Linked DNA regions of Homo sapiens: region 2 is linked to region 1. The links come from fine-mapping of genetic effects on gene expression. A gene starts in region 1. The other region holds a variant in brackets. All regions are shown on one strand. Distances are between the middles of the regions.

Region 1 (5,215 bases):
GTGTTGTTCTATAAATATACTAGCACCTTCCAACTTCTGTGCCTTTGTTCACAAGAGGCTGTGTAGCACAAATGGATATATATAAGTCTGCGCTTCTATATATATATGAATGGATATATCCACTTATATATAAATGGATATATAAGTCTGGGCTTCAGAGTCAGATCTAGGTTCAAATTTCATGCATGGCACTAACTGGATGTAGACCCTAGGGAAATCATCAAACCTCCCTGCATGTCATATCCTCATCTGCACATAAAATGTAGTTAAAAGCCACCTAACTGAAATGATTGCTGTAAAGTTTAGTAGCAAATACGCAGAGGATGTCTAGCACAATACCTGGCATGTAGCAGGTGCTCAGTTATTGATAGCTCTTATACTCACTTGCAATTTCAAATCCTACCCATCCTTTGAAGTCCTTTCAAATATAACTTCCACCATGTAGCTTGGTCACCCCAACTGGACATGATAGCATTTTCCTTTAAATTTCTGTAATATTCTTTGTGTAACTTTCTCTTACATACTGCCTTATTTTAGCATTGTATACTTGTCTTATCCCTAAAACTTAAGACTGGTAGCACCATAGAGGCAGGCCCTTTGCATTCCCTACAGCAACTAGCACAGTGCATTACTCATTGTGGGAGTTCACTAAACATTTGTTGAATGGAAGCGGATTGCATATTGAGTAATGAGTGATCAGAACCACTGAAGTTAACTGGGGAAAGCTTCACAGAAGAGGGGTGGAGAAGTTTAAATGAAAGAAACTAAAAACTACTAAGCACCTATGACAATGTCACAGTAGGCACAATGTATATATTATCTCATTTAGTACTCTCACTAATTCAGTGATGTGTTCCTATCACCATTTTCCAAAGGAGGAAACTGGGGTTCAGCCTGATTTTACTCAAGGTCACGATAGAACTTAACACAACTCACTCTTATTGCCATATCCCCAGTGCCTAAAGGAGTGCCTGGAACATAGTAGCGGATGCTCAATAAATATTTGTTGAGTGAGTGAAGAGGTGAACAAATGGAGCTAGTAAGCAGCAGAGCTAGGACTAGAATTAAGTTCACTGATCTCCCAGCTCAGTTCACTATGTTAAGTTGCTAATTCAAAACAGAGGAAAGGGGGCCAGGCACGGTGGCTCACACCTGTGTCCCAGCACTTTGGGAGGCCGAGGCGGGCAGATCACCTGACGTCAGGAGTTCGAGACTAGCCTGGCCAACGTGGTGAAAGCCCGTCTCTACAAAAATACAAAAATTAGCTGGACGTAGTGGCAGGCGCCTGTAATCCCAGCTACTCAGGAGGCTGAGGCAGGAGAATCACTTAAACCCCAGAGGTGGAGGTTGCAGTGAGCTGAGATTGTGCCATTGTGCTCCAACCTGGGTGACAAGAGCAAAACTCCGTCTCAAAAAAAGAAAAAGAAAAAAAAAGAGGAAAGGGAAGAACCATTTACTGAGCAACTACTATATAACTAAACACATTGAGAAGAGGGACAGGAGCAGAATATTGACCTCATTATACTCCTCAGTTCATGGTACTGATAGTATTAGACACGTTACATAAATTATGCCATTTGATCTTTCTAAAAACTGTTTTGAGGCAGGTATTTTTATCTCCATTTTACAGATGAAGAAACACCCTCCCTAAAATGACTTGCCGAAACTCACAAAGTGGGTGGATTCCATCCCAAGTAAAGTTTAACTCCAAAGCCTGTGTTCTTAAAATACTTGTCCACACTTTGGGCTTGCAGTGGAAATTCTATCCCTTGCAGAGACAGGAGCAAGAGAGTATAGTGAAGATGGCCGGGCACAGTGGCTCACGCCTGTAATCCCAACACTTTGGAAGGCCGAGGCAGGAGGATAGCTTGAGCCCAGGAATTCGAGACCAGCCTGGGCAACATGGTAAAACCCCGTCTCTACAAAAAAATACTAAAAATTAGCCTGGTGTGGTGACACGCACCTGTGGTCCTAGCTACTAGGGAGGCTGAGGTGGGAGGATCACGTGAGCCTGGGAGGCAGAGGTTGCAGTGAGCAGAGACCGCGCCACTGCCCTCCAGCCTGGGTGACAGAGTGAGACCTTGTCTCGATTTTTAAAAAAGTAAAAAATAAGAAAGGAGAACAAGTATGGTGAAGAGAATGGCAAGGAGCTGCGACAGGGGTTAAACCTGGCCTACTGGGGTCACTGAACAAGTCAATACTAAAGTTATAAGCAACAAAACGTTAATGTCCCACGGGAAGCAATCTCTCATTATTCCTTCAACAAAGGCTGGTGACAGGTTTTGATAAAATGAGGGGACAGCAGAAGAAAAGATAACTTAAGAAATCACCTAAAGTTCGCCATTTAACACAATGTAGGGGACGATGACGAGACCTGGGAGGATGGGAAAGGAAAGATCGGAGTTTCACAAAAAGACCTGGAAGGAACCACGAGGGCAGGGGGCAAAGCGGTTAGCGCAAAGAACAGGTGCAGTGTTGGGACTGGTTCTGGCATCGGGTACAAGAAGGGCCTGCCGGGCGGAAGGAGCTCCGGCTCTCAGGCCACGAGCCCGTCCCCCGACTTCTTTAGGGGGCACTCTGCCTCACCCTCGGTCCCTTTTGTCGCAGATCCCAAGCTCACCAGGGGCCTGGGCGATGCTGTCCCCGGGTCTCCTGGAGACTCCTCCGCTTCCGCCATCTTGGCCCTCCTTCTCCCGGGTCGCTCCCACAGGTCTTTGCGGAACCTGCGACGTGGAGGCCACTGCCGGTCAGCGCGTCATCGCGTGACGGCCGCGTCACCTAATGGCGCCTGGCAATGGCCGGCGGCCCCGGCCCTTCGCTGTCCCTCGGTCCTCGGGGTGTCAGGGACAGCTCCGCGTCGCCTTGTCTCGCTTCTTCGGGGCCACGGGTCCAGCTAGACACGCTTAGCCTTTAACACTCAAGCCGGATTCTCAGACCGCTCCTTCGCTCTCGCGACCACGGCTGCCCTCTCCACCCCACCGACTCCCGCCCATTTCCCGTTCTCAGGAGTTGGCTTGGAGTGCCAGACCCTCGATCACGGCACCTCTAGGAAAGAGCCTGCCTCTCTTCCTTCCCTTCCCCGGCTACCGAGCGACTTCAAGTTTTCGTGCGCCGGAATGACGGGCTCAAGCCCCAACCTCCTGCTCCCTCCGCCGCCGCCCCTGCCCCTCTGACTCTGCGCCTCTCCTGCTGCTCGCAAGCCTCTTCCCACTTCCTTGACTTTTATAAACCTCTCTACTGCCTCCACGCCGACCCTCCAGGATTACTTTTCTCCAGCACCTCTGGCGGTGGGCAGGGAAGAAGCTTCATTGGCCAAACTTGTTAATCCCACTTCAAAAGTTGCTAAACCATTTGGAGCAAGTACTGAAAATGTTCAGGGTCTAAAAGAGAGTAACTATTGTGACAATAACTTAAAAGATAATCTTCATGTCCCAACCTGTTTTCCTTATCTCATCCTTTTGGGCTTTCAAGGTATTTCTGGTCCCAGTTTACGTTGGCCCCAGGCTAAAATGTAGTCAGACAGGGCAGCCATTGTTGACAGCATCAGCATCCAGGATACCTGGGTGCCCTTTGGTGGTGTTAAGCATTTAACCAACAAGGCAGGGGATGGCTGTGAAATAAAAGTGTTTTATATTTTTGGATAGGCAATCCAAGTAGTAAATTTAAGGAGGAAGAATGTGGAATGTGGAGGGACAAAATTCCAAACGAATGGAGGTGTTTTTTTTTTTTTTTTTTGGTGTTTGTTGTTTTGTTTTGTTTACGATAATTCCCCTTCAGACCAAGCACAATTTTAGTACTTGCACAAATACTGGTGGAAGTGATATTAAAATTTAAGCCAGTAGACATGAAATCTTTTTGCAATTGCAAGGGAATATCATGTACAAATGTCCCAACCCCAGCCTGAGCTTCTCACCTCATCCTCCCACCCCATGATTACCAGATCACTACCTCCCGTCCCACTTCCCTGAGGCCATTGATAACGTCTGCTATTTCCTTGCCAACCTCCAAAATTAGCTATTTCTCCCTAGCCACAAGCCCCTCGCTTCTACCCCTTCTAACCTCATCTATTGGCCCTCTTGGCCACTTATTTCAAGGTAGCCTTGGTGATAGGTTAAGAGGAGGACAGGCCGGCCGGGCGCGGTGGCTCACGCCTGTAATCCCAGCACTTTGGGAGGCCGAGGCGGGCGGATCAAGAGGTCAGGAGATCGAGACCATCCTGGCTAACACGGTGAAACCCCGTCTCTACTAAAAATACAAAAAATTAGCTGGGCGTGGTGGCGGGCGCCTGTAGTCCCAGCTACTCGGAGGGTGAGGCAGGAGAATGGCATGAACCCGGAAGGCGGAGCTTGCAGTGAGCCGAGATCGCGCCACTGCACTCCAGCCTGGGCGAAAGAGCGAGACTCCGTCTTAAAAAAAAAAAAAAAAGAGGACGGGCCATAGGACAATTGAGGCAGGCAGTGCTCAGGTTAGTTGGGCATTATTTCAGACTACCAATGCCTGTTCTCCCCATTTAACTAATAGGGTACTGGTTGGGTGTGAGACAATATGCTTTGTAGAAAGAAAATCAGGAAGGAAGGTTGTGAAGGAAGGGGCTGCACAGGAACAAGCTCCCAAAACTAGGAATTATTCTATGTTTTTAGTTGCAAGTGTATCTCAAAAAATTGCCAGACTAACTCAGAGTTCTTTAATACACCTACAGTCATTACTGTTTGCCAGATCATGGATATTTACAATACAGCAGGACTTGCATGACTTGTCCAAAGTTACTTAGAACCTTTGTAAGTGGTAGAAGTGGAATTAATATTTAAGTCAATAGGTATGAAGAACTTTGTTGGCTAATCTGTATTTCAGGACACTATAACATACAACTCTATGAAAATAACCAGGAAATATTAAGGAAATAATTTCCCAGAAAAATGATCAGAATTGACTCAAAACAAAGTGGGGAATTTCATTAAAACAAAATTTTGAAAGGAAAAATTTAAAACACATGTTAAAAGCTGGCTGGGCGCGGTGGCTCACGCCTGTAATCTTAGCACTTTGGGAGACCGAGGTGGGCAGATTGCCTGAACTCAGGAGTTCGAGACCAGCCTGGGCAACATGGCAAAACCCCGTCTCTACTAAAAATACAAAAATTAGCCTGGTGTGGTGGTGCGTGCCTGTAGTCCCAGATACTCGAGAGGCTGAGACACGAGAATCTCTTGAATTCTGGAGG
Region 2 (5,215 bases), 64 kb before region 1:
GGTGCACCAAAATTTCAGAAATCACCACCAAAAAACATATTCATGTAACCAAACATCACCTGTTCCCCAAAAACCTACTGAAAATAAAAAAATATATGGGGAAGAAAATATAACTGTTTATATTTAATTTTATACTGTATGTTTTAAAAATTATATTTTTGTTTATGTTTCATATATGTGAACATGTATAATGGATTAAAAATAGATATCAAGAGTGAGTGTTCAAAGTATTTTAGTCATCAAAAAAGTTTGGATGCTATTGTAGTGTGTCAATAAAAAGAGTCAAACTCTAAAATATTTGAAGAGATTTATTCTGAGCCAAATACGAGAGACAATGGCTTGTGATACAGCTTTCAGGAGGTCCTGAGAACATGTGCTTAGGGTGGTTGGGGTGAAGCTTGGTTTCATACATTTTAGGGAGGCATGAGACATCAATCAAATACATTTAAGAAATACATTGGTTTGGGCCAGACGCAGTGGCTCATGCCTGTAATCCTAGCACTTTGGGAGGCTGAGGCAGGTGGATCACCTGAGGACAGGAGTTCGAGACCAACCTGGCCAACATGGTGAAAACCCATCTCTAGTAGAAATACAAAAATTAGCCAGGTGAGATGGTGAGTGCCTGTAATCCCAGCTACTCAGGAGACTGAGGCAGGATAATCACTTGAACCCGGGAGGCAGAGGTTGCAGTGAGCCAAGATCGCACCACTGGACTCCAGCCTGGGTAACAGAGTGAGACTCTGTCTCCAAAAAAAAAAAAAAGAAAAGAAAAGAAAGAAATACATTGGTTTGGTTCAGAAAGGTGGAACAACTCAAAGCACGGGGTTTCCAGGCTATAGGTAAATTTAAACGTTTTCAGATTGACAATTGGTTGAGTTTGTCTAAATACCTGGATCAATAGAAAGGAAATGTTTAGGCTAACATAAAAGATTGTGGAGACCAAGGTTCTTTTGTAGTCTTATAGTGGCTGCCCTTAGAGACAGTAGATGACAAAGATTTCCTATTTGGACCGTTAAAAGGCACTAGACTCTTACTTAATCTCTTCAGGATTGGGAGGGGCTGGAAGAAAAAGATCTAGCTATGTTCATAGATTCTTTACAAATGCACATTTTCCCCCACAAAGGACCATTTCAAAATATGGCAAAGTAGAATATTTTGACTTTCTTCTTTGTCATGTAATGTTATGCCAGAGTCATATAGGAAAGTAAGTCATGATATATAGGGTTAAATAAAACCCATCAGATGAGAATTTATGATTTGTAGGGCATGATTCGCCAGACCCCTGAGCTAAAAGAGGATGTTCGAACCCATCGCAAGAAAGCTAAAAAAACCTTGAAAAAAGATTAGACGAATGGCTAACTAGAGTAAACAGTGTACATAAGACCTTAAATGACCTGATGGAGCTGAAAACCATGGCACGAGAACTTCATGATGAATGCACAAGCTTCAGTAGCCAATCCAATCAAGTGGAAGAAAGGTTATCAGTGATTGAACAACAAATTAATGAAATAAAGTGAGAAGACAAGGTTAGAGAAAAAAGAGTACAAAGAAACAAAAAAAGCCTCCAAGAAATACAGGACTATGTGAAAAGACCAAATTTGCATTTTATTGGTGTACCTGAAAGTGATGGGGAGAATGTAACCAAGTTGGAAAACACTCTTCAGGATATTATCCAGGAGAACTTTCCCAACCTAGTAAGGCAGGCCAACATTCAAATTCAGGAAACACAGAGAACAACACAAATATACTCTTTGAGAAGAGCAACCCAAAGACACATAATTGTCCGATTCACCAAGGTTGAAATAAAGGAAAAAGTGTTAAGGGCAGCTAGAGAGAAAGGTCGGGTTACCCCCAAAGGGAAGCCCATCAGACTAACAACAGATCTCTCGGCAGAAACCCTACAAGCCAGAAGAGAGTGGGGGCCAATATTCAACTTTTTAAAGAAAAGAATTTTCAACCCAGAATTTCATATCCAGCCAAACTAAGCTTCATAACTAAAGGAGAAATAAAATCCTTTACAGACAAGCAAATGCTGAGAGATTTTGTCACCACCAGGCCTGCCTTACAAAAGCCCCCAAAGGAAGCACTAAACATGGAAAGAAACAACCAGTACCAGCCACTGCAAAAACATGCCAAATTGTAAAGACTATTGATGCTATGAATAAACTGCATCAATTAATGGGCAAAATAACCAGCTAACATCATAATGACAGGATCAAATTCACACATAACAATATTAACCCTAAATGTAAATGGGCTAAATGCCTCAATTAAAAGACACAGACTGGCAAATTGGATAAAGAATCAAGACCCGTCAGTGTGCTGTATTCAGGAGACCCATCTCACGTGCAAAGACACACATAAGACACACATAGGCTCCAAAAAAAGGCAAGGAGGAAGATCTACCAAGCAAATGGAAAGCAAAAAAAAAAAAAAAAAAAAGCAGGGGTTGCAATCCTAGTCTCTGATAGAACAGACTTTAAACCAACAAAGATCAAAAGGGACAAAGAAGGCCATTACATAATGGTAAAGGCATCAATTCAACAAGAAGAGCTGACTATCCTAAATATATATGCACCCAATACAGGAGTACCCAGATTCACAAAGCAACTCCTTAGAGACGTACAAAGAGACTTAGACTCCCACACAATAATAATGCAAGACTTTAACACCCCACTGTCAATATTAGA[C/T]GGATCAACGAGACAGAACGTTAAAAGATATCCAGGACTCGAACTCAGCTCTGCAACAAGTAGACCTAATAGACATCTACAGAACTCTCCACCCCAAATCAACAGAATATACATTCTTCTCAGCACCACATTGCACTTATTCTAAAATTGACCACATAATTGGAAGTAAAGCACTCCTCAGCAAATGTAAAAGAACAGAAATCACAACAAACTATCTCTCAGACCACAGTGCAATCAAATTAGAACTCAGGATTAAAAAACTCACGCAAAACTGCACAACTACATGGAAACTGAACAACTTGCTCCTGAATGACTACTGGGTACATAACGAAATGAAGGCAGAAATAAAGATGTTCTTTGAAACCAATGAGAACAAAGATGCAACGTAGCAGAATCTTTGGGACACATTTAATGCATTGTGTAGGGGGAAATTTATAGCACTAAATGCCCACAAGAGAAAGCAGGAAAGATCTAAAATTGACACCATAACATCACAATTAAAAGAACTAGAGAAGCAAGAGCAAACACATTCAAAAGCTAGCAGAAGGCAAGAAATAACTAAGATCAGAGCAGAACTGAAAGAGATAGAGACACAAAAAACTCTTCAAAAAATCAATGAATCCAGGAGCCGGTTTTTTGAAAAGATCAACAAAATTGATAGACTGCTGGCAAGACTAATAAAGAAGAAAAGAGAGAAGTATCAAATAGATGCAATAAAAAATAATAAAGGGGATATCACCACCGATCCCACAGAAATACAAACTACCATCAGAGAATACTACAAACACCTCTACGCAAATAAACTAGAAAATCTAGAAGAGATGGATAAATTCCTCGACTTATACACCCTCTCAAGACTAAACCAGAAAGAAGTTGAATCTCTGAATAGACCAATAACAGGCTCTGAAACTGAGGCAATAATTAATAGCTTACCAACCAAAAAAAGTCCAGGACCAGATGGATTCACAGCTGAATTCTACCAGAGGTACAAAGAGGAGTTGGTAATATTCCTTCTGAAACTATTCCAATCAATAGAAAAAGAGGGAATCTTCCCTAACTCATTTTATGAGGCCAACATCATTCTGATTCCAAAGCCTGGCAGAGACACAACAAAAAAAGAGAATTTTAGACCAATATCCCTGATGAACATTGATGCAAAAATCCTCAATAAAATACTGACAAACCAAATCCAGCAGCACATCAAAAAGCTTACCCACCATGATCAAGTCGACTTCACCCCTGGGATGCAAGGCTGGTTCAACATATGCAAATCAATAAACGTAATCCATCACATAAACAGAATCAATGACAAAACCGACATGATTATCTCAATAGATGCAGAAAAGGCCTTCAACAAAATTCAACAACCCTTCATGCTAAAAACTCTCAATAAACTAGGTATTGATTGAATGTGTCTCAAAATAATAAGAGCTATTTATGACACACCCACAGCCAATATCATACTGAATGGGCAAAAGCTGAAAGCATTCCCTTTGAAAACCGGCACAAGGCAAGGATGCCCTCTCTCACCACTCCTATTCAACATAGTGTTGGAAGTTCTGGCCAGGGCGATCAGGAAAGAGAAAGAAATAAAGGGTATTCAATTAGGAAATGAGGAAGTCAAATTGTCCCTGTTTGCAGATGACATGATTGTATATTTAGAAAACCCCATCATCTCAGCTCATAATCTCCTTAAGTTGATAAGCAACTTCAGCAGTCTCACGATACAAAATCAATGTGCAAAAATCACAAGCATTCCTATACACCATTAACAGACAAACGGAGAGCCAAATCGTGAGTGAACTCCCATTCACAATTGCTACAAAGAGAATAAAATACCTAGGAATTCAATTACAAGGGATGTGAAGGACCTCTTCAAGGAGAACTACAAACCACTGCTCAATGAAATAAAAGAGGACACAAACAAATGGAAGAATATTCCATGCTCATGGATAGGAAAAATGAATATCATGAAAATGTTCCGTACTGCCCAAAGTAATTTAGAGATTCAATGCAATCCCCATCTAGCTACCAATGACTTTTTTCACAGAATTGGAAAAAAACAACTTTAAAGTTCGTGTGGAACCAAAAAAGAGCCCTCATTGCCAAGGCAATCCTAAGCAAAAAGAACAAAGCTGGAGGCATCACGTTACCTGACTTCAAACTATACTACAAGTCTACAGTAATCAAAACAGCATGGTACTGGTACCAACACAGATATACAGACCAATGGAACAGAACAGAGGCCTCAGAAATAACACCACACATCTACAACCATCTGATCTTTGACAAACCTGAGAAAAACAAGAAATGGGGAAAGGATTCCCTATTTAATAAATGGTGCTGGGAAAACTGGCTAGCCATATGTAGAAAGCTGAAACTGGAACCCTTCCTTACACCTTATACAAAAATTAATTCAAGATGGATTAAAGACTTAAATGTTAGACCTAAAACCATAAAAACCCTAGAAGAAAATCTAGGCAATACCATTCAGGACATAGGCATGGGCAAGGACTTCAAGACTA

Direction of the effects. Alleles are on the strand shown, and positions count from the first base shown. SD is a standard deviation of normalised expression in the study named.
With allele C in place of T in region 2, the expression in fibroblasts of the gene that starts at base 2,693 in region 1 is higher (moderate effect, 0.48 SD a copy in GTEx).

The links. PIP is the estimated chance that this variant, and not a neighbour inherited with it, causes the effect.
Region 2: its variant is fine-mapped to the expression of YIPF6 in fibroblasts (GTEx, PIP 0.99).

What each region holds. Positions count from the first base shown.
Region 1 is chrX:68,496,529-68,501,743 of GRCh38, reverse strand. It overlaps YIPF6 (Yip1 domain family member 6), which reads right to left and starts at 2,693. Exons shown (of 7, transcript NM_173834.4): 1 at 2,621-2,693. The coding sequence starts at 2,677. RefSeq lists enhancers at 2,575-3,054, 2,853-3,527.
Region 2 is chrX:68,560,832-68,566,046 of GRCh38, reverse strand. No RefSeq gene overlaps it. Among named protein-coding and RNA genes, the nearest start is that of YIPF6, 64 kb to the right of the region's middle. The variant C/T (reference allele first, on the strand shown) is at 2,691.